Linked DNA regions of Homo sapiens: regions 2, 3, 4, 5, 6 and 7 are each reported to be linked to region 1. Evidence: microRNA targets listed by miRTarBase, many of them from high-throughput screens and not tested one by one. Region 1 holds a microRNA gene; each other region holds the end of a gene's coding sequence.

Region 1 (3,114 bases):
TGACCGGCAGGCCGGGAAGAGCCAGCTAAGAGCTTCCCAGCGAATGGCCAGGCTCCAGCGAGGCTGGTTGGGCCTCAGCTCCAGTCCCCAGTGAGGCTGGCGAAGGCCTCCCTGCCCTCGATATGGGCACACAAAGCTGCAGCGAATGTCCCCTAATCAGATCTCCTAGTCAGCCGTTAGCGACAGGCGAAGAAACGCAAGGCTGCCGCCATCCGGTCGTGATCATAACCGAGGCCTTGTCTGCAGAGTAACACACCAGGCCCAAACCCACCGCCCTCGGCAGCCGCCCCACGCGGGCCCTTCCTCGGCAGACTTCCCAACCTCTACTTGAGCCGCAGAGGAAAGTGAGACCCCCTAGGCTCTCCTGAAGCCAGCTCTGGGCCCCTCCCCAAGGATGCTTTGGGAAGGAGATAAGGAGGTGAGATAGAATCTGGCAGAGACGGAAGATGAAAAAAAGACCAACGGAAGAAAAGAAAGCAGGAAGGAGCAAAGGAAAGAAGAAAAAAAGAAAGAAGAGATAAAAGAGGAAGGGAAGACAGGGAAAAGAAGGAAGAAAAGAGAGGCGACTCCTAGCAGCGGCCGAGCTTACAGAGAGAAGGGTAAGTGACAAGGCCAGGATCCCAGCCTGCCCTATCCTTCCTAGTCCAGCCTGAGTCTCCACTGGAAGGAGGTTCTTTCCTGAGCTCACACCCGGGACTGGTGTGTGTGTGTGTGTGTGTGTGTGTGTGTGTGTGTGTGTTCCAGCCTTACAAGAGAATGGCAGGAGGTCCCTGGGCAGGCGCAGGCCTCCAGTGGGAGGCTCAGGATGGAAGCGGGCGCCCCTGACCTTGAATGGCCCAAAGCCCAGAATTCCTACCACGCCCCCGGCGTCCGCGAAGGAGCAGCCAACCTAACCCTACCTGCTGTGACCAGGTGGAGGTGTGTGGTGGAAGGGGAAAGCCGGCCGGCTGGCAAAGCGCTGCGGAGAAAGACACGAGGCTCCTGAGCAGGGAAAGCCGAGGTTGCCACCGCAGGCCTGGCACGACCAGGGCCGTGATGCCCCGCCCGGCCCGACCCCCGCGCGCAGAGGTACCTGGAGACGATTTCAACTGAAGTAATGAAGGCAGTGTCGTGCTGTCGAGAGAAAGGTGGATCCCAACAACAGGAAACTACCTAAATCACCGACCAGTTCTGGTGCTGCCCGCGAAGGGCTGCCTCGCCCGCCGCCGCCGCCGCCTCCGCCGCTGCCGCCGCCGCCAAGGAGAGAACCCTGCCATCGCGCCTGGCCCGGCCCAGCCCAGCCCCTAGGCAACCTGCGCCCGCCAGTGCAACAGAGTGCCCCAGGCGGCCGCAAATGCGTCAAGGAAGGGGAAGCCACAGGCCCCAGTAAGGTATTCCTGGGAGGGAGAGGGAGGAAAAGAGAGGGAGGAAAGGCAGGGAGAGAGGAATAAAGGCGGGGAGCAGGCGAGACGAGAGCAGCTCCGAGAAGCAGTGTGCGCGCCGCTTTCCCAAATCTTGCAGCCCAGCGAGCCGGCGCCAAGAGGCGGTAGCCGTGGAAGGCTCGAAAGCGCCAGGGACGGTACAGATCCCGGCTCCCTGTCTGGCCCCGGCCTCCCGCCTCTCGCTCTCCCCCTCTCCCTCCTAGCTGCCCGCCCGCCGGGGCGCGCGCTCCTGCGCCCCCTCCCCTTAGCCCCCGCCCCCCCCACTCTGGCAAGCAGGAAACGCGTGGCCCTAAGGAGTGCCGCCAGGTGGGGGAGGCCGTACTGGGGGAGGGGGAGGCCCCCATGCAGTCCAGCCCGGGTCCACCTAACCGCTGCCTCCAGCGGCTAGAGATGCGCTGTGGGCCAGGCCTGCTCCCCGATTCAGATTGAGGGTCATCTGTGACCCAGACACCCGCAAAATAACCGGCCTCTGCAAGCCTCCCTGGGGCTCCCGAAAGAAATCCTGTTTGGCTTCCTCTGTCTATGTAGCTCCCCTCTCAACTGAAATCACTGGTCCAAGACAGCCACAATCCAGATATACTAGCAAGCCATAAAACTGAACAAAAGCCGACAAACCTTACGGCACCAGGGCTATAGGGCCCAGACAAATTACGACCGTCTAGGTAATATTTAAATAGATGCCTAAAGTAATTGCAGGGGCTCGGGTTAGTCCTCCTGTTGTAAAAGTGGTGAACGGGATAAAGTGGAAGGTGAAGATAAGAAGTCAAAAAAGAGGTAAAATTAAAAAGCTTCATTCCACAGCTTTTATTCTATAAGAACATAAACATCGTCTTTTTCCACGCACAGCAGCAATACAATATTAATTTATTCTGATTTAAGATTAGAAGTAAATAGAGCTAGAACTAACATTTATAATAACGATAGAATGCATTTGCTTAAAACAAGATTGGCAATTCTTCATAATAATAGACATTTATACAGATTTGTATTTATAGTTTTTTTCTTTTTCTGCATCTACAGGTTTGACCCTTTTATGCATGTAACTTCACAGTATAAAGGAAATCCAAACAATGTCTCCCTTCTCTAGTTTATTCCGCTTACCCCAGTCCTCCTAGGCTTCTGTGAATTTCAGAAAGCAAAAACAAACAAAAAAAAAACTTTTTGTTCAAGGCGATTTAAAAAAACAACTTCACAAGATAGGGAGAATTGTGGTGTGCTTGTCACATGTTACCAGTGGTAACAATTTTAATGACAAAAAAATCCACTAATTCCAAATGCATAAACAAAACTACATTATTTATCTACAGCCAGAAGGATATGGAAATTTAGAGGTAAATGAAACATTTTAGTCAGGCAATGTAAGACCTTACAGAAACTGGAAGAGAAGTCCCCTTCTCTTGGTAATTCTTTTTTTTTCTTTTTAAAGCTGGGATATCTTACAGAGGAAGGAAAAATTAACCTTTTTTACTTTCTTTCTCACTTTTTAAATCAGCCAAAGTCAAGCCCGTTTGCCAACCTGCATGTCCATGCCTGTAAGCCCTTCTCTTGGCCAAGGAAGAAAGGAAGAAAGAAAAAAGAAACCCAGGGGCCTGTATCCCCTGATTAAACACAGCACAGCACTCCAGGCAGACATGCCCGGTGGCGGCTCCTTTGCACCATTGACCTCAGGCCAGACACCTCAGCGCCAACAATG
Region 2 (3,114 bases), not on the chromosome of region 1:
TGAGGGTGATATCCATGGACCGGGATTATCACTTTGAGTGCTACCACTGTGAGGTGAGTGTTGGGGTTCAGCGGTGCTGGAGAAGAAGTGGAAATGGGGAGAGGGGAGGAGTCAAGTCCTGCAACAACCAGACATCTATGGGAGAGGTGTAGGGCATGGGAAACCAGAAAGATATTGTGACCTATCTTCAGTCTCTTTTTTGTCCTCCAGCCACTCTCTCTGGTCCAAGTAGCTTAGTCCTTTCTGAATCTGACTCTCCCAGAGTCAGGACTTTCTAAGACTAGGGACTCTGGTCAAACTTCTTGAAAGACAGGCTTGTGTCATTATTTCTGCTGCAGCAGTGACACCTGGTGTCCAGCTGAGGTATTAGTATTTTCTCAGATTGCTCTTCCATCCCTTCCATCCTTCCCTTCCCACCCCATCCCTTTCTTCCAGTTATTAGGAGTCAGGTGTTGAGCAGGGCAGACTCCTAAGATACCCTCAGTGTCCAAGGTGCCTAGGCTGAGGTGAACTAGGTGCCTTCTTCCCTAGGACTGCCGGATGCAGCTGAGTGATGAGGAAGGCTGCTGCTGTTTCCCTCTGGATGGGCACTTGCTCTGCCATGGTTGCCACATGCAGCGGCTCAATGCCCGACAACCCCCTGCCAACTATATCTGAGCTGCAATCACTGCTGCTGCTGTCACCCTGCAGACAAACTGCTGTGGCCAGTGGGCCCCTCTGAGGCCAGCCAAGGCAAAGAATGCACTCTGCAGGCCTGGCAGAAGAGTCCTCTGGGGAGGACCCCAAGGGCCGGAGACCCAAAGATCATGATATTCCAAATGGATTGTGGAAGAGAAACCTTATATTTACCAGGGTGGGGGCGACTGGCCTTTTTCCCATGTGTGCAGTCTGAGCTTAGGCACACACAGGAGGGTTCCAGGACTTTCTGAACATCTGATTCTGTATCTTCAGTATATATATTTTGTTTGTTTTAGAGATGGGATCTCACCATGTTGCCCAGGCTAGTCTTGAACTCCTGGGCTCGAATGATCCTCCCACCTTGGCCTCCCAAAGTGCTGGGATTATAGGCGTAAGCCACTGTGTCTGGCCTAGTGTATGATTATGCATGAGTCACGCAATGTTCTGGTCCTGGATTCCAGGAGTAGAGGACCTAGCTTTAAATCAATTAGTTTCAGCTAAACTGACTAGAACCAAATCAAAGTGTAATTCTCCCTCCAGCTCCCCCAAACCCCAGAGTTTTGGGGTTGTGGTTGATGCAGTGTGGGATGTCCCTGAGAGGTAGCAAGTCTAGGGTGGTGAGTTCCTGCTAGGCAACCAAATTTAAGCTCCTCACTTTTTGTGACACATGGTGTCAGATATGGGGTCCCGCACCTATATCTGGATGAAGAGGTAGAAACTCTGGACCTCATTAATGAGTTATTTCTTGGCCTTCTTCTAAGGACTAGGAGAGCTCCTTATCTGTCTGAGAATGGGGACCAGCTCTGAGTGGGGTTGCTGCCTGTATTCCCTGTTTCTCAGGAACTTACATGGGTCTGGGGAGGCTAGGTAGGTGATTGTACGTGGTTGCTCTTCTCCTTGGCTGGGGGAGGTAATGAGCAGATCTCTGTGGGTGTGGAGCTTGTTGGGGGGATGTCTAGGAAGCTTCAGCTTAGCCACATTCCCAAGTTTAGGTGCACTGAGCCATATAGCCCAGTGTATGCATGTGTGGGTGTGTTCATGCACACACACACTCTCTCTCTTGTCTCTCTGTCTCTCTCTCACTCTTTCTTACTCTCTTCTCAGGTCACTTGTACACTTGGTTTCCTAGTAGAAGCTCACTTGCCACCTCTCAGAGGGGTCCCGGATTGCATCCATCACAATCCCAAAACTAGAGTTGGGGGGAACTGGAGGGAGCAAAACACTGATTTGATACTAGTCAGTTTGCTTGAAACTAGTTCACCTAAAGCTAGATCTCTTAAAACCAATTTACTGAAAACTTGTTTGCTTAAAGTTAATGACTTAATGACTAATTTGCCAAAAGCTCAATTCCTATTTTGGTGTGTTTATATCCATTTAGGTGTCCTATTCTTTTTTGTCATGCTTTGGATATTTCAAGGATTTATATCTATTCATCCAAGAGTACTTCTGAGCTATTATCAGCAACATAAATTTATCAAATTTGCAGCACTTTGTAAATGATGAGATTGCTTCCTACCTTTATGGATGTCTTTTTCTATGTTATCTACCATTCAAAAACTTTTTTAAAAAGTTTAAAGTTTCTAGCAATAAATACAATTGGTACAGACATTTTGTGTATCATTTTTTTGTTTCTTAATCCAATATTCCTTTACAAATTAAATGCCTTGAAAAATATAATGGAGTTCAATGTGATTTTGATGCTTTGGTCTAACTTCTACATTCCTACTGTTAAAAAGGCCAGTATATCTTAAACAAATGAATAGGCATGAGGCATATTCAGTTGACTTACAATGAAAAGTTATACAGACAACAGTAATAACTAAAAGGGTGAATCTGCTAAATCCTTTTGAAATGCTGCAGATTTGATAAATATTTATTTTAGACTAATTGGTTTTAGGTGAATTGGTTTTAGGCAAATTAATTTAGTAATCTTTGATCTTTAGTCTTCATTTTCTGTCACTCAGTGAGTTTCTTACTGGAAATGATGACTCCTGACAACAGAATTTCCACATTTGGGGGCTATTCTAAGGTGACTATGCCAGCCAACCTGGGAAATACATAAAAGAGATCTCTGAGTGAGAGGGAAAGAGGTCAGATTTATACAACTGAGCGCCAGAGGGGAAAATGCACCTTGTTGGAGTGAGAAATGTTCTGAAACTGAATTACTTCTTGTACAGCTGAGATAGCTTCTTCTGAACTATTATTAAATAAGTGAATACAAAGGCCCTATGATGGGAAATCCAGACAAGCTTGTGTAACTTTACATCCATCCCCTCAGGGATATTTTTTTTTTTTTTTTTTTTTTTGAGACAGAGTCTCACTCTGTCGCCCAGGCTGGAGTGCAGTGGCGCTATCTCGGCTCACTGCAAGCTCCGCCTCCCGGATTCACACCATTCTCCTGCCTCAGCCTCCCAAGTAGCTGGGACTACAGGCGCC
Region 3 (3,000 bases), not on the chromosome of region 1:
GGCAGTCCCCCAGCCTAAGCTGAAGTCTGGACAGAGCAGATGGTAGGGTGGAGGGGATGACACTGAGGGAGGGCTCCTTATGAAGGCAGAGGAGTGGCTGTCTTCCCCCACAAACTTTCTCCTCTGGGAAACAGCCTATTCCCCCAAACAGAGACATCTCTATGTTGGTTTCCTCTGCCAACTTGCCAGACAATATGCAAGTATCCTGTGGGCCACTAACTTTCTGGGTGCTTCACCTTAGAATGAAAGACATCACTGGGGAGGCAGGCCAAGGAGGCCAGGGTACAGGCCAAGACAGCCAGGCATAGGACAGGTATCACCAAGCAGACTTGGGGTTAGGAGGGGCCCAAGAAGGTGCTTGGTGCCAGGAATGTGGGCCAAGGGCCCATACCGTTGAGGAGGGTCCCTATTGCCTGCTGCAGGGAATCGGAAGGCGGAAGGACCTGGAGCGCCTGTGGCAGCGGCACACCTTCCTGCGCTGGGCACCCTGTGAGATAGAGTTGCGCCAGCAGGGGCCCCTGGAATCTTCTTACCAGGCTGATTTCAGGCCAGGCCCAGGACTCAGTGGCCTCCCCCAGCACCTCATCCACTTTGTGCAGGTCCAGCCTTCCCATACCAGGACCACCTACCAGCAGAACTTCTGCTGCCCATCCCAGGGTGGCCACTATGGCAGCTACAAGGTAGGGCCCCAGGCGCCGGTCACTGACGTACTGCCTGACCTCCCAGGGATCCCAAGACCCAAGCTGCTGCAGCACTACCTTCATGCTGGGGTCTCTGAGTGTCTAAACTGGTCCAGAGCATTAAACAAGGACAGCTGACACAGCAGCCTGTCTGTGCTTGCAGCCCACAATGGGATGTAGCCCAAGAGGCTGAAAGGTAGTAGTAGGCTGCCAGGTCCTGTGCCTGTCTCCCATGGCACTTGTGCCCATGGTGTGTTTCTGTGCTGGGCATGGGAGGTGCTGCTCTGGGATCCCTGCCACTAAGTGAGAAAGGGTAAGGCCTGCAGGAGGCTAAGAGTCCAGGAGGATTGCTATAGCCACATCAGGTGGGTTCCAGGGCCCCAAGTACTACTCTGTTCTTGCAGTAAACCCAGCTGTAGAGAGGAAGATTAGAGGGCAGTCCCCAGCCTAAGTTGAAGTCAGGACAGAGCAGGTGGCAGGGTGAAGGGGGTGACACTGAGGGAGGGCTCCTTATGAAGGCAGCGGAGTGACTAACTTCCCCACAACCTTTCTCCTCTGGGAAACAGCCCATTCCCCCAGAGACATCTCTGTGTTGGTTTCCTCTGCCAGCGTGCCAGACAATGTGCAAATATCCTGTGGGCCACTGACTTTCTAGGTGCTTCACCCTAGAATGAAAGGCATCACTGGGGAAGCAGGTCAAGTACTCAGTTTAGCTATGGGGAAAGCAGACCCCAGAGACCAGTACTAGTGGGCGACAAAGGCTGGAAGAAGGAAGAGTTGGCAGCTTTCTCAGGAGGCAGCTGCCTTTGAGGGGTTTGTTGGGTGGCCACACAGTCCTGTCCAAGAGACGGCTGCCCCACAGCTGAGACAGAAAGAGACTGCCCTGGGCCACAGAACCCACTGCACCACCCCTCCCTGTGGGGGTGAGCAGAGACCCTAAGGAGACACTCTGTAACTTGGATCTGGAGGTCTTCCTAACCTTGTGGTATTCTGTTGTTTTCTGAGCACTTCTCTGGTCATCTTATCCTGCCATCCTTTGGTGACATGTGACAGCCCTTCCTTACTGCCCTAGTGCTCTCTAATCCCCAGGACAGTAAGGAGGCGCTGTCATCACATGTTGCCAAAGAATAAGCTGAGGCTCAGATGGAACAGAAACACCAAATCACTTTGGGAACACCGACCAGATCCAAGAGGCTCCTTCTGGACCCTCATCCCTAGGGGCATTGAGACCCCCAAAGGAAGGCAGGGGCAGTGGAAACAAGGGAGTTCACACCAGGGTCCACACACTAGGTTTTAGCAGCACTTTTACTTCCACATCCAAACTCCCTGGGTCCTCACAACAGCCCTGTGAGGTAGGTAGGGTAGGAAGGTTTCAGAGATCCCCATTTATAGATGAGGATGCTGAGGCACAGAGAGGTGAAGTGACTTGTCCAAGGTCATACAACCAGCAGTGTAGAGGGCTCAAAGCCAGCATTCCTCCACTTGAACTCCTGCGCTCCGGCCCTCTGGCAGTTCCCACATCCTCTCTATTCTCTCTGTGTCCCCCACCCTCTCAACTCTCCTGGGTCTGCAGGGACCCTAAAGGCAGCCTGGCAGCTGAGATTTTTCAGGAATGGCAACTGGGGTAGGCCTGGTCAACTCCAGATAGGAACTGACCCTGAAGAGCATGAGGCCAGCTTTGCTTCTCCCCATTTCCCAGTTGGATGGAAGGCCTAGTAGGTCCCAGGGCAAGGATGGAGCTAGGCATGATTCATGAACGAATGGTGATAAAGGTAGGTGTAAGCATATGTGTGTCCTGCACTAAAGACAAAGGCTCCCCTAACCCAAGGCCCCAAGGCAGTGTTTCAAGTGCTCACCCCCATGCCTCTCTCATCCCACAGAGCCACAGTGAGTGTCCTCAGCAGCAAAAGGAGCCATAGAAATAGCTGCCTCTGGCAATGAGCTGCTCCAGTGGACAGCTCCCACCAAGCCTTCAGACCCCATCACGCAGACACAGTGCCTCCACGGCTTGACTGGGGCCCTGGGCCACACCCCCAATAACAAACAGCCGGGGCCCAGCCTGCAGACTAGAGCAGGAGCAGCGGGCAGTGGGCATGGCAGGCAATGCCTCCCAGCGCCGCCGTGCAAGGCTAAAGCTCTCCACAGAGCCCAAAGGACATGGCTGGTTTCCTGCAAGAAGGAGAGAGAAGGCTGTGAGAGGCACAGGCCGTAGGGACTCCAGGCCCTTCTGCTCCCTAAGCCCAGAGAATAGCCCAGTAGTTATCACCCCAGGATGAGCTATCAGGGCCTTGCTCCTCATTGCCTATGTTCATCATTTGTT
Region 4 (3,114 bases), not on the chromosome of region 1:
GTGTAGTAGTATTTTGACTTGTCTTCCAGATAAAGATAAATAATTAAATTATCAAGGAACATAAGCAACTCAAGTAGATTAATTCTCACTTAACATTTGGGATAACCTAAAATGAGGCCCCAGATTATCTGCAACACTGGGTGTCTCAGCTCATTGCATAACTGCTATATTGTTTTTTTCTTTGCTTTTTTAGGAAGATAAATTCACCAGACTGGGAATTCAAGTACAGGACATCTTTGAGAAGAATTTCAGAAACATTTTTGCAATTCAGGAAACAAGCAAGAACATTATAATGTTTATTTAGCCATTCTTATCTCCTCCCTTCAGATCCTCTGGCAGCTAGCTACGCAATGTGCCTGTGGTCCCACTAATCTGTGACTGCTCCTGTGGAAACTCCACATCACAATTCTCCAAAATTTATCATTGCCATTTTAAAACCGTCTTTTCAGCTTTCAATAAAATTCAACACCCCTTCATGTTAAAAATTCTCAATAAGCTAGGTATTGAGGAACATATCCCAAAATAATAAGAGCCATTTATGACAAACCCACAGACAACATTATATGGAATGCGCAAAAGAAGCATTCCCCTTGAAAACAAGCACAAGACAAGGATTCCCTCTCTCACCACTCCTATTCAACAAAGTATTGGAAGTCCTGGTCAGAGCAGTCAGGAAGCAGAAAAAAATAAAGGGTATCTAAATAGGCAAAGAGGAAGTCAAACTATCCCTGTTTGCACACAACATTGATTCTATATCTAGAAAACCCCCTAGTCTCAGCCCAGAAGCTCCTTCTGCTGATAAACAATTTCAGAGATGTTTCAGAATACAAAATTAGTATATGAAAATTACTAGTATTCCTATACACCAGCAATAGCCAAGCCAAGAGCCAAATCAGGAAGGCAATCTCATTCACAATTGCCACTAAAAGAATAAAATACCTAGGAATACAGCTAATCAGGGAGGTGAGAGAGTTCTACAATGAGAATTACGAAACACTGCTCAAAGAGATTGGAGATGACACAAACAAATGGAAAAACATCCCATGCTCCTGTGTAGAAACAGTCAATATCATTAAAATGACCATACTGCCCAAAGCAGTTTACAGGTTCAATGTTATTCCTATCAAACCACCAATGACATTCTTCACAGAACTAGATAAAACTATTTTAAAATTCATACAGAACCAAAAAAGAGCCCAAATAGCCAAGGCAATCCTAAGCAAAAAGAACAAAGCTGAAGGCATCACGTTACCCCACTTCAAACTATATTACAGGGCTTCAGTAACCAAAACAGCATGGTACTGGTACCAAAAAAAAAGCCACATAGACCAATGGAACAGAACGAAGAGCACAGAATAAGACCACACTCCTATGACCATCTGATCGTCGATAAAAACAAGCAATGGGAAAAAGACTCCCTATTTTATAAATGGTGCTGGGATAACTGGGATAGAAGATTGAAGCTAGACCTCTTCCTTACACCATATACAAAAATCAACTCAAGATCAATTAAAGACTTAATGTAAAATCAAAAACTATGAAGACTCTGGAAGACAACCTAGGCAATACCATCCTGGACATAGGAACAGGCAAAGATTTCATGATAAAGACAAAAGCAATAGCAACAAAAGCAAAATTTGACAAATGGGATCTAATTAAACTTAAGAGATTCTGCACAGCAAAAGAAACAATCAACAGAGTAAACAGACAACCTACAAAATGGGAGAAAATATTTGCACACTATGCATCTGACAAAGGTCTAATAGCCAGCTTCTATAGGGAACTTAAACAAATTTACAAGACAAAAAGAAATAACCCCATTAAAAAGTGGGCAAAGGACATGAAAGACACTTTTTTTTTTTAAGATGGAGTTTCACTCTTGTTGCCCAGGCCAGAGTGCAATGGCGTGATCTTGGCTCACCACAACCTCTGCCTCCCGGGTTCAAGCAATTCTCCTGCCTCAGCCTCCCAGGTGGCTGGGATTACAGGCATGCACCACCTGACTGATTTTGTATTTTAGTAGAGACGGGGTTTCTCCACATTGGTCAGGCTGGTCTTGAACTCCCGACCTCAGGTGATCCACCCACCTCGGCCTCCCAAAGTGCTGGGATTACAGGCATCAGCCACCATGCCCGGATGAAAAGACACTTTCCAAAAGAAGATACACATGCGGCCAACAAGCATGTTTTAAAAGCTCAATATCACTGATCGTTAGAGACATGCAAATTAAAACTACAATGAGACACCATCTCACACCAGTCAAAATGCCTCTTTCTAAAAAGTCAAAAAATAACAGCTAGTAAGGTTGTGGAGAAAAGGGAACATTTATACACTATTGATGGGAGTGTAAATTAGTTCAACCACTGTGGAAAGCAGTGTGGCAACTCCTCATAGTGCTAAAAGCAGAACTGCCATTCCACCCAGCAATCCCATTACTGGGTACATACCCAGAGGAATATAAATCATTCTACCATAAAGACACATGCATGCAAATGTCCACTGCAGCACTATTCACAATAGCAAAGATACAGAATCAACCTAAGTGCCCATCAGTAACAGATTGGATAAAGAAAATATGGTACACATACACCATGGAATAGTATGCAGCCATAAGAAACAATGAGATCATGTCTCAGGAACATGGATAGAGCTGGAGGCTATTATCCTTAGCAAACTAATTCAGGAACAGAAAACCAAATACCACAGGTTCTCAGTTGTGAGTGGGAGCTAAATGATGAGAACTCATGAACACAATGAAGGGAACAGACACTAGGGTCTACTTGAGGGTGGAGGATGGGAAGAGGGAGAGGAGCAGAAAAAGTACCTATTGGTGATGAAGTACTCTGTACAACAAACCCGTGACAAGAGTTTCCCTATATAACAAACCTTCACATATACCCCTGAACCTAAAAGTTTTTTTAATTGTAAATAAATGGATCATTAAAAAAAATTTTAATAATAAAATTGTCTTATCAAGTTCTCTTATTGAATAATTTGGAACGAAACTTACAACTGATAACATAAAGTCTTTCTATAAAGGATCATATTATATCTTCCCAATTATTCAGTTTTGTATTTTTTGTTGTTGCCGTGAAAGCAATCTTTTCCCATTGA
Region 5 (3,114 bases), not on the chromosome of region 1:
CAATTCTCATGCCTCAGCCTCCCAAGTAACTGGGACTACAGGCGTGTACCACTACACCCGGCTAATTTTTTATAATTTCAGTAGAGACGGGGTTTCACCATGTTGGCTAGGCTGGTCTCGAACTCCTGACCTCAGGTGATCCGCCCACCTTGGCCTCCCAAAATGCTGGGATTACAGGTGTGAGCCACTGCGCCCGGCCTATTGTGATATTTCTTTACTTAATAACTAGCAGATGAATCTCTTAACAGTATTCTGTTTTCCTCTAAGCATGCATAAAAAGTGGTCAAATAAGTCCATGATGACTCATCACCTTTTCCCTGCAAGGAGTGTACTGTAGATTACCAAACCTGCAGAAGCCGTCTGTGTGGAGACAGGAGGAGGACAAACCAGGCTTGCTCTGCTTCACACCCAGAGACCTGGAGCCACAGCATGTGGAAATTGCTTTCATGACCTTTTATACCCCCTGCTGATAAAGCAATTAGAAAACTGAAGAGTTTCACGGTGGTGAGATAGAATTTCACAATACTGAGTGAGATATTAGCAATGGACTCTCCGTATGTCCCTATGGTCTACAAGCTTAATATGTATCTTTAAACAAACACATAAAAAAATTCATTAACTGGAGAAACAAGATTGTGGCCATAGTCAACACTCTATAATGTCACCATCTTCACCACTATCTCTGCTTAAAATTCTGCCGTACTATCTTCAGAATAAGGATAATGAATTGGAAATACGACCATTTCTTTTCATTGCCCTTGATGGTTACCTTTTTAAAAAAAAAAAAAAAAAAGTAGGGTCTTACTCTATCATCCAGGCTGGAGTATGGTGGCATGATCAGCCTTGAGCTCCTGGGCTCAAGTGATACTCTCGCCTTAGCCTCCAGAGTAGCTAGGATTATAGGTCAGTGCCACCATGCCTGGCTAACTTAAATTTTTTTTTTGTAGAGACAGGGTCTTGCTATGTTGCCTAAGCTGACAATTACTTTATTTAAAAGCTTTTTTTTCTGGCCAGGGGTGGTGGCTCACACCTGTAATCCCAGCACTTTGGGAGGCTGAGGTGGGTGGATCACCTGAGGTCAGGAGTTTGAGACCAGCCTGGCCAATGTGACAAAACCCTGTCTCTACTAAAAATACAAAAATTAGCCGGGCATGGTGGCACGTGCCTGTAATCCCAGCTGCTCAGGAGGCTGAAACAGGAGAATCGCTTGAACCTGGGAGGTGGGGGTTGCAGTGAGCCGAGAATGTGCCACTGCACTCCAGACTAGGTGACAGAGTGAGACTCTGTCTCAAAAAAACAAAACAAAACTTTTTTTTTTTCTTGAGATACGGAGTCTAGCTCTGTCACCCAGGCTGGAGTGCAGTGGTGCGCTCTCAGCTCACTGCAACCTCTGCCTACCGAGTAGCTGGGATTACAGGCACCCGCCATCATGCCCAGCTAATTTTTGTATTTTTAGTAGAGACGGGGTTTCACCATATTGGCCAGGTTGGTCTTGAACTCCTGACCTCATGTGATCCGCCTGCATCGGCCTCCAAAGTGCTGGGATCAAAGGTGTGAGCCACTGTCGTGCCTGTCCTTTTTTTTTTTTTTTTTGAGACAGAGTGTCACTCTGTCACCCAGGCTGGAGTACAGTGGCATAATCTCGGCTCACTGCAACTTCTGCCTCCCCGGTTCAAGCAATTCTCCTGCCTCAGCCTCCCGAGTAGCTGGGACTACAGGCTCCTGCCACCACGCCCAGCTAGTTTTTTGTACTTTTAGTAAAAACACGTTTCACTGTGTTAGCCAGGATGGTCTCGATCTCCTGACCTCGTGATCCACCCGCCTCGGCCTCCCAAAGTGCTGGGATTACAAGCGTGAGCCAACACGCTCGGCCTGGCTTTTTTTTTTTTTAACATGTTCCATATGGGGCAGGGCTAAATGTTAGGCAGTGCGCCCATAGTCACTGCCAATTACTTTTTTTTTTTTTTTTTTTGAGACGGAGTCTCGCTCTGTTGCCCAGGCTGGAGTGCAGTGGCGCAATCTCAGCTCACTGCAAGCTCTGCCTCCCAGGTTCATGCCATTCTCCTGCCTCAGCCTCCCAAGTAGCTGGGATTACAGGCGCCCGCCACCATGGCTGGCTAATTTTTTTTGTATTTTTAGTAGAGACAGGGTTTCACCATGTTAGCCAGGATGGTCTCGATCTCCTGACTTCACGATCCGCCCCCCTCGGCCTCCCAGTGCTGGGATTACAGGCGTGAGCCACTGCGCCTGGCCAATCACTGCCAATTACTTTTGAACAGAGAACATCATATGTAATTAGAGGAGGCGGGATATTGTTGGTGCAGCTATATCATTCAAAATTGGCAGAAGTCCTGAAGCTGGTGGGGCTAAAAAAAAAATTGGTGGAACGGCGTATGTTGAGACCTGGAATAGCTTCTCTGGAAGGTGCTCTAAGGCAGGGGGTAGAGTAGTACATAGGTAGTCAAATGATGAGGCTGAGGGTGTCTACCAATAACACAACGCCACAGAGCTTCCTTGGCACACTTCCCGCTGCTGCTATGTGGGATCCTGTCTGGCTCGCTTAGGATTCTGCAGGTCACCAGGTGGTGAGGCCTTGCTTGCTGAGATGCTCCGGAGAGAATGCAAGCTCTGCGTCTGCTGCAGGCGCAGGGCGAGCTCCCGCTCACAGGCCTCCTGAACAGTCTCCGTCTTCTTTATGTCCCAGTTCAAGGCAACAGCCAGTGCTTTGGGGTCTTCCTTGGTAACCAACTGCAGCAAGAATAAAAACCCCTGAGAACTGGGCCTTCTGTGCGCCTCTCCTGCTGCTCTCCTGACTCTCTTTTGGGGAGTGCAATGAGGCAGTATCCGTTTATGTTACCTCTTTACACTGAAATGCCGGGTTTCCTTTACCATTAATTGCCACGGGCTTTTTGTTTTTTGAGACGGAGTCTCGCTCTGTCACCCAGGCTGGAGTGCAGTGACACTATCTCGGCTCCCTGCAAGCTCCGCCTCCCGGATTCACGCCATTCTCCTGCCTCAGCCCCCTGAGTAGCTGGGACTACAGGTGCCCACGACCACGCCTGGCTAATTTTTTTGTATTTTTTTTAGTAGAGACGGGGTTTCACCGTGTTCGCC
Region 6 (3,114 bases), not on the chromosome of region 1:
CTCCAATCACTCAAGGCTGTGCAGAAAGTACCAGATTCAGCAGGGGCATCTAGTCAGGCTGCCCTCTTTGCTCCCCACCTCCTATTCCCTTACCCCTCCTCGGACAGAATTATTGGGTTGGCCACAGTGGAATCAGAACAGGAAACTCTCACTCCAACAGGAGTTGAAAGGGTAGGGCTTCCTTCCCTGTGTGAAGGCCTACAGAGGGCACCCCACATGTTAGCGGGGTTGAATCCTCCTGATACAACCCGGCCCAAGGAGGGGCTTCAGAAGGGAGTGGGTTTCTGGATGACTAGAGCAGACACCTTGAGTGTTATGCAGCGGAAGACGCCCAGTCAAGCTGAAGAGAAGGTGCCCCTGGATCACCAATGGCTTTCAGGCTTTTATTTGGATATTTGGTCTTTCTGCTCACCTGGAGAGCTAGAAGATTGCAAATCTCTGGGATGTTTAGCAGTTTTCCCCATTTTTCAGAGCAGAGAAACTGGAGATGTTGAGCAAAATCCAAACAGAAGGAACTGAGAGCAACTCATTGCAGGAGGGCTGCCAGCCTCAAGAGTGTCCCAAGGCAAGAGGGATGGAAACCGCGAGCCAGTGTGCTTCTAAAGTATGCATCAAAGACACATTTAAAAAAACATACAAAATTAGATGTAATTTAGCATCTAAGTTCTTTACTTAATCTGCAGTAAGTTTTTGGCAAAACAATGCAGTGGCTCCGAGGTGTTCTTGCCAGAATAAACCTTGAAGCCCCAAACTTCCAAGAGTGAAGGGGGCTACGGTGACATGGCAATGCTGCAAAGACAGCGCCGCAGCACTGGAGAGCTGAGCCAGCCTGGGGCCGAGGGGGACAGGAATGCACCGTGTGGACACCAGGCTGCCAAGAACCATGCCCTGCCGCTGGAGACAGGAGACAGGCACCCACGCAGCTGACCAAAGCTCGACCAGGCCAACGGCCACCGAAGATGTGCCACCTCATGAAGCGAGGGCACTGCTTCCTATCTCAGGCCTTTTCCTTCACTGAAAAACTTCAAACCAAACCAAGAGGAGTCATTTCTCAGGAAGAATTTAGTGTTATTAATTAGAACTCTCTTAAGTGAGAGGGAGCCTGTTGGCTGCTTTTCTTATCACCTTTGGCAACCACCCTCACCTGTAAAATCAAGATCTAACGGACGTGCGACATGGCAACCCACAGGAAGTCTCCTTAAGCCAAGACTTGCAACAGAAGCCCGGCAAGCGGGACAGACCGGCGGACAGACCGTTCCACGTGGCGGCTCTGCGTGTTACCTGCCCCAGCTTCCCTTCTTCACAAAACAAATTCACGTGTAACTTGACCCATGGTTTCTGGGCTCCGGTCCAGTAGTCAGTTTTGATAAATAGATTAGGCATTACAGTATTTACACTTTCATGGTATCAAGCAATACAAAACACAACCACAACAATGGTTACTGGCCTTCAAAAGCCGTTACAACAAGCTTCCCTGATGGTGTCCACAGCTTTACAAATGCTGGTTCTTTTCTTGATGGGGGGAAGAGTGGGTGGGGGACAAGGAATAGGGATGCAAGGAAAGAGGGTCACATGGAAAACACTGATTTCCAAAATCTGCTATAGTCAATAACATTAAATAGGAATAAAACCTTGTAATTATAGACGCGCGCGACAATAACATCCACATGACGGCAGAGCCAAGACGCCCATCAGCTTGTGTGACTGGTGCCTTGGGTGGCACTCTATACTCATCACACCGGCCAACAGTGATAAATGCCAGAGAGGGTGTCTCGGCCACTAGTGAAATGAAAAGAGGCCAGTGTGCACGTGCTGGCCCGGTCAGGGCCAGGGTGGCCAAGAGAAGGTGCAGCCGAGAATCAGATATTGGCTTCAGGGTCCTTTCCTTTTCCCTCCAATGCCCCAAACAGATGTTCATTCAACATCTGTGCAGGCCTCACCCATGGCCAGATCTGGGCACAGGGGAGCCACGCCACTGTTTTCAGGTCAACAGCCTCCTCCTCCGGGAGATCAGCGACAACAGAATCATACTGGGCCAGTCAGTCATGATAGCGCAAGGCATACTAGTGCCCCTTGGTCAGAGGAGGTCTCCGCGGGCACAGACGAGGGTCAAATGACAAGGAAACAGGTCCAGGGGCTTCGGAGAGAGAGAGAAAGCCCCTGGACCCTGGAGGTGGCTTATAGGAAAGCCAGCCCTGGGTGGTGGAAGGGAACTGAAGCAAGGAATGGCTGCAGATTTTAAATGTCCACTCCAAAGGGAGGACTGGAACTTCAAATTTAGTGACCATGGCCAGCAATGGACACTCTCAAAGGGCAAGGAGTTAAGGGCTTAAATAAGGAGATAGGCGAGACACCGCATCAGGCACCATCACCCTCACAGCAGAAAAGTGATTCGCAGTCTGTCTTAGCTCTGGGGCGCAGAATGTAAATGTAGATATACAAACATGTATTTTACTTCTTGTTACTCAGCAAGGAACTACAGATACATGCCTCACTGCGGCCAGGCCACAGGGCACAGCAAAGGCTATCCCGTGGCCTGGGAGTCTTCATCTGAACTCCGGCTGTTGTCGCTCTTCCTGAGGCCTTTCCATGTGTAGCCCACAAAGGTTGGGCTGATGGGTAAGTAGCTGAAGCATCTGTATTTTTTTATAATGTTCATGCCAAATGGCAAATTGTACGACTCCATGCCGTCGAGTGATTTGTTCCCTTTGCCCACACCCTTCTTCCATTTCCGGATTCCTCTTTCCTCTGGAGTGCCTGTCACACATCCCAAGATAGAACAAAGGAATGCTTCGTTTAGCAGCTCTACTGAAAATGAAACTGTCGTCAAACACATACACACACACACACACACACACACACACACACACACACACACACACACACACATGGTCCCACAGATCAAACCTGCCTAGATAACAGCAAAGAATACTTGAGGAGGTGAAGGTGCTCAGCTATCCAGTGCCCAAACCAGAAGTCTAAGAAGCACTAACCCCTCCATGTCCTCATTCAAGCAATCACCTAATGACCTTCTGACCTCCCTATCCTTCTATGTGACCCATATTCTCAATTTTCACTGTTAGGGCCCAGCTCAGGCCATGTTATTGCTTTCCT
Region 7 (3,000 bases), not on the chromosome of region 1:
ACTCAGGAGGCTAAGACAGGAGAATCACTTGAACCCAGAAGGCAGAGGTTGCAGTGAGCCGAGATCGTGCCATTACACTCCAGCCTTGGGTAACAAGAGCAAAACTCTGTCTCAAAAAAAAAAAAAAAAAAAAAAGAGAAACAAACAAACAAAAACATTTGAAGCAGTCTGATATTTTCAACTACACAGGGAGAATAACAGTACTTACTTTATATGGTGATAGTAAAGATAGAATGAGCTAAAAACAAAATAAAACAAAACCAGCTTAGAGTGGTGCCAGGCATGGTTGTTAGTGGCTAGTATTATCATTCTTGTTGTTTTTTTTATCAGTGCTTGATATAAATGAGAAAGCACTAAGTGAATGGGTACTTCAGCATAAAAGAGTTGTTGAAGACATGTGGAGATTTAGTTTTGAATAAATTAATAATAATAAGTTTCCTTAACTACAACTCAGATTCCATGCTGGTTTCCATTGTGGGGATGGCACTATACACAGGATACGTCTTCATGCCCCAGCACATCATGGCGATATTGCACTACTTTGAAATCGTACAATGACCAAGATGCGACCAGGATCAGAGGTTCCTTGGGGAAGACCCACCCTACGAAGTTGGAATGAGACCATCAGATGTGATAAGAAACTCTTCTAGATGTCAACATAACCAACCTTATAAAGACTAAAATTCATGAGTAGAACAGGAAAATCATCCTGACTCATGTGTTGTGTTCTTTATTTTTAATTTTCAAAGAGGCTCTTGTATAGCAGTTTTTGTCTATTTTAACATTGTAGTCATTTGTACTTTGATATCAGTATTTTCTTAACCTTTGTGACTGTTTCAATATTACCCCCGTGAAAGCTTTTCTTAATGTAACTTTGAGTACATTTTAATTGCCTTCTATTTTTAAAACTCAAAATCATTAGTTGGGCTTTACTGTTCTTGCTATTGTATGGCATATACATCTGCCTGGATATATTTCTACTCTTGACCAAAGTTTTGTAAAGAACAATATAAGATTTCGGGTAGGGGTATGGGGAGGGAAGATATTTTATTGAGAACTACTTAACAAAAGATTTATCTGTAAGCTTGAACTCAGGAGTACAGTTTTAGCTATCTAGACTCTAACAGCTTTTGCTTTAAAATTATTAAAGTGTTTCTTAATGAAAAAGAAAAGATCTTGCTAAAGTTAAAATAAGGAACATTTCACCTTTTAAATATTTAATTCTTATGTGGACTTATTTCCAGAAAACTTTGGTGATAATTCTTGAGACAAAAGGTGGTTAAGTAGCATTATTATGTAATGCTTATATACCATAGAGTTTTTAATAGAAGAGAAATCCATTTCCTCCGAGGGTCACTATTAACAATGTACTTCCTTAAATTTAGTTTAATGATTGTAATGGGTGCTGCATTTGCACATTGCATTAAGTTATGATGAGACGAATTGTTGTTAAAAATTATAGCAAAAAGAAATGTAAACTTGGTTAAAATCCTTTCACTCTTTGTATTGTTTTTTTTAAGGTTTTTATTCCTTAAATGTAAAATGACTACCTAATTTTTTGATGTAAATACATTAAATTCAAAGAGAAAAAAAATCAGCTGATGTAGCAGTATATCTTTTCCTTGATGGTTAAATATTGATCTAGTATTTATATTGCTGAATTATTTTCTGTGGAGGACCAGATAAGCAGTAAGTATGTCTTATCCTATATGTTTTGCAACATAAAAATATTGCTAATTGAAAAGAATTAGGCAATTATGTGTGTTGCTGGGTTGTTTTTTTGTTTTTTTTTTTTTGAGACGGAGTCTTGCCCTGTCGCCCAGGATGGAGTGCAACAGCATGATCTCGGTTCACTGCAACCTCCATCTCCTGGGATCAAGTGATTCTCCTGCCTCAGCCTCCTGAATAGCTGGGATTACAGGCACCTGCCACCATGCCTGGCTAATTTTTTGTATCTGTAGTAGAGACGGGGTTTCACTGTGTTGGCCAGGATGGTCTCAAACTCCTGACCTCCTGATCCACCTGCCTCGGCCTCCCAAAGTGCTGGGTTTACAGGCGTGAGCCACCGCGCCCGGCCAAAATTGAGGTATTTTTTGCCCTACGTTTTAAGGACTAGACTTTTGAAGTATTTTATAGTCTAGAGGTCTCAAGTAATATATATGTGTTTAATATTTTTAGAGCCAATTGATACCACAATTAGATAGGAGTAGTGAGAATAATATGGAATTACTTGGTTTGAAGTAGTTAAAAATTGGATATGGTTATATCTGAGCTGTAGTCATATTATCTCAAGAAAAATAATACGAGGATTTAACATAAGATTTGTTCTATTAATGCCCAAATTTGGCTTTCCTCTACTATCCCCCATAGAGAACCACTAACAAGTGGATGTCTAATATTCCTCTGGTGAGTTGAAGGCAGGAGAAGTTGAGAATCATTAGTTTCAATGAGTATCCAGGTGACCTATCCTGGCCCTCTACTCAGAAACCGGCAATTTGTCTTCACTCTGAGATTCATTAAATTGCTGTTGTATAACTGATGGTTATTATGAACACTGACCTGTGAGACATATGGAAGATAAAGTTTGGTCTTACAGGAAATCTTGAGGAGAGTCAAAAGAGAAATGGGAGATGTCTCTTGAGAGGTGATCAGAGAAGTTTATGCTCACTGTCTGATGCAAATGTCTGGTCTATTTGTTAGTAAATAACAGGGAAATCATTTTCACTTTTTGTTAAAAATAAGGTATTTACAAGCATACCTTGTAGTTATTGTGGGTTCAGTTTCAGACCACTGCAATAAAGTGAATATCTCAATAAAGTGAGTCACATGAAGTTTTTTGGTTTTCCCCTGCATATAAAAGTTACATTTACACCATCCTGTAGTCTATTAAGTGTGCAGTAGCATTATGGCTAAAAAAAAAAAACACCCAATATACCTATCTTAATTAAAGAATTATTTATTGCTGAAAAAAGCTAATGATTATTTGAGCCTTCAACAAGT

Evidence for each region. The annotated mature microRNA hsa-miR-196b-5p reads UAGGUAGUUUCCUGUUGUUGGG and lies in region 1 at 1,134-1,155, opposite strand. An mRNA with a match to its seed (bases 2 to 7 or 8) in the 3' UTR can be bound and repressed. Matches are read on the target gene's strand: a 7mer-m8 pairs with bases 2 to 8, a 7mer-A1 pairs with bases 2 to 7 and ends in A, and an 8mer does both.
Region 2: miRTarBase lists AJUBA as a target of hsa-miR-196b-5p. The part of its 3' UTR that is shown has no 7-base or 8-base seed match.
Region 3: miRTarBase lists KLHDC8B as a target of hsa-miR-196b-5p. Seed matches in the 3' UTR shown: 7mer-A1 at 2,034-2,040.
Region 4: the mRNA of SP100 is a reported target of hsa-miR-196b-5p. The part of its 3' UTR that is shown has no 7-base or 8-base seed match.
Region 5: miRTarBase lists DFFA as a target of hsa-miR-196b-5p. Seed matches in the 3' UTR shown: 8mer at 2,455-2,462.
Region 6: miRTarBase lists SLC23A2 as a target of hsa-miR-196b-5p. The part of its 3' UTR that is shown has no 7-base or 8-base seed match.
Region 7: miRTarBase lists SPTSSA as a target of hsa-miR-196b-5p. Seed matches in the 3' UTR shown: 8mer at 1,546-1,553.

The regions. Positions count from the first base shown.
Region 1 is chr7:27,168,395-27,171,508 of GRCh38, forward strand. MIR196B (microRNA 196b) reads right to left here and starts at 1,169; the gene lies at 1,086-1,169. All of the region lies in intron 1 of HOXA10-HOXA9 (HOXA10-HOXA9 readthrough), which reads right to left. HOXA10 (homeobox A10) reads right to left here. Exons shown (of 2, transcript NM_018951.4): 2 at 2,211-3,114. HOXA10-AS (HOXA10 antisense RNA) reads left to right here and starts at 505. Exons shown (of 3, transcript NR_046609.1): 1 at 505-599; 2 at 913-1,370; 3 at 2,914-3,114. RefSeq lists enhancers at 190-780, 781-1,371.
Region 2 is chr14:22,970,986-22,974,099 of GRCh38, reverse strand. AJUBA (ajuba LIM protein) reads left to right here. Exons shown (of 8, transcript NM_032876.6): 7 at 1-53; 8 at 532-2,923. The coding sequence ends at 657. Among named protein-coding and RNA genes, the nearest start is that of AJUBA, 10 kb to the left of the region's middle.
Region 3 is chr3:49,175,454-49,178,453 of GRCh38, reverse strand. KLHDC8B (kelch domain containing 8B) reads right to left here. Exons shown (of 6, transcript NM_173546.3): 6 at 1,968-2,849. The coding sequence ends at 2,653. It overlaps CIMIP7 (ciliary microtubule inner protein 7), which reads left to right. Exons shown (of 4, transcript NM_001080528.3): 4 at 402-820. The coding sequence ends at 818. Among named protein-coding and RNA genes, the nearest start is that of KLHDC8B, 5.4 kb to the right of the region's middle.
Region 4 is chr2:230,542,643-230,545,756 of GRCh38, forward strand. SP100 (SP100 nuclear antigen) reads left to right here. Exons shown (of 29, transcript NM_001080391.2): 29 at 194-2,964. The coding sequence ends at 304. Among named protein-coding and RNA genes, the nearest start is that of SP100, 130 kb to the left of the region's middle.
Region 5 is chr1:10,458,955-10,462,068 of GRCh38, forward strand. It overlaps DFFA (DNA fragmentation factor subunit alpha), which reads right to left. Exons shown (of 6, transcript NM_004401.3): 6 at 1-2,748. The coding sequence ends at 2,536. Among named protein-coding and RNA genes, the nearest start is that of CORT, 10 kb to the left of the region's middle.
Region 6 is chr20:4,854,448-4,857,561 of GRCh38, forward strand. SLC23A2 (solute carrier family 23 member 2) reads right to left here. Exons shown (of 17, transcript NM_005116.6): 17 at 1-2,757. The coding sequence ends at 2,525. Among named protein-coding and RNA genes, the nearest start is that of RASSF2, 32 kb to the left of the region's middle.
Region 7 is chr14:34,432,759-34,435,758 of GRCh38, reverse strand. It overlaps SPTSSA (serine palmitoyltransferase small subunit A), which reads left to right. Exons shown (of 2, transcript NM_138288.4): 2 at 455-2,971. The coding sequence ends at 558. Among named protein-coding and RNA genes, the nearest start is that of SPTSSA, 28 kb to the left of the region's middle.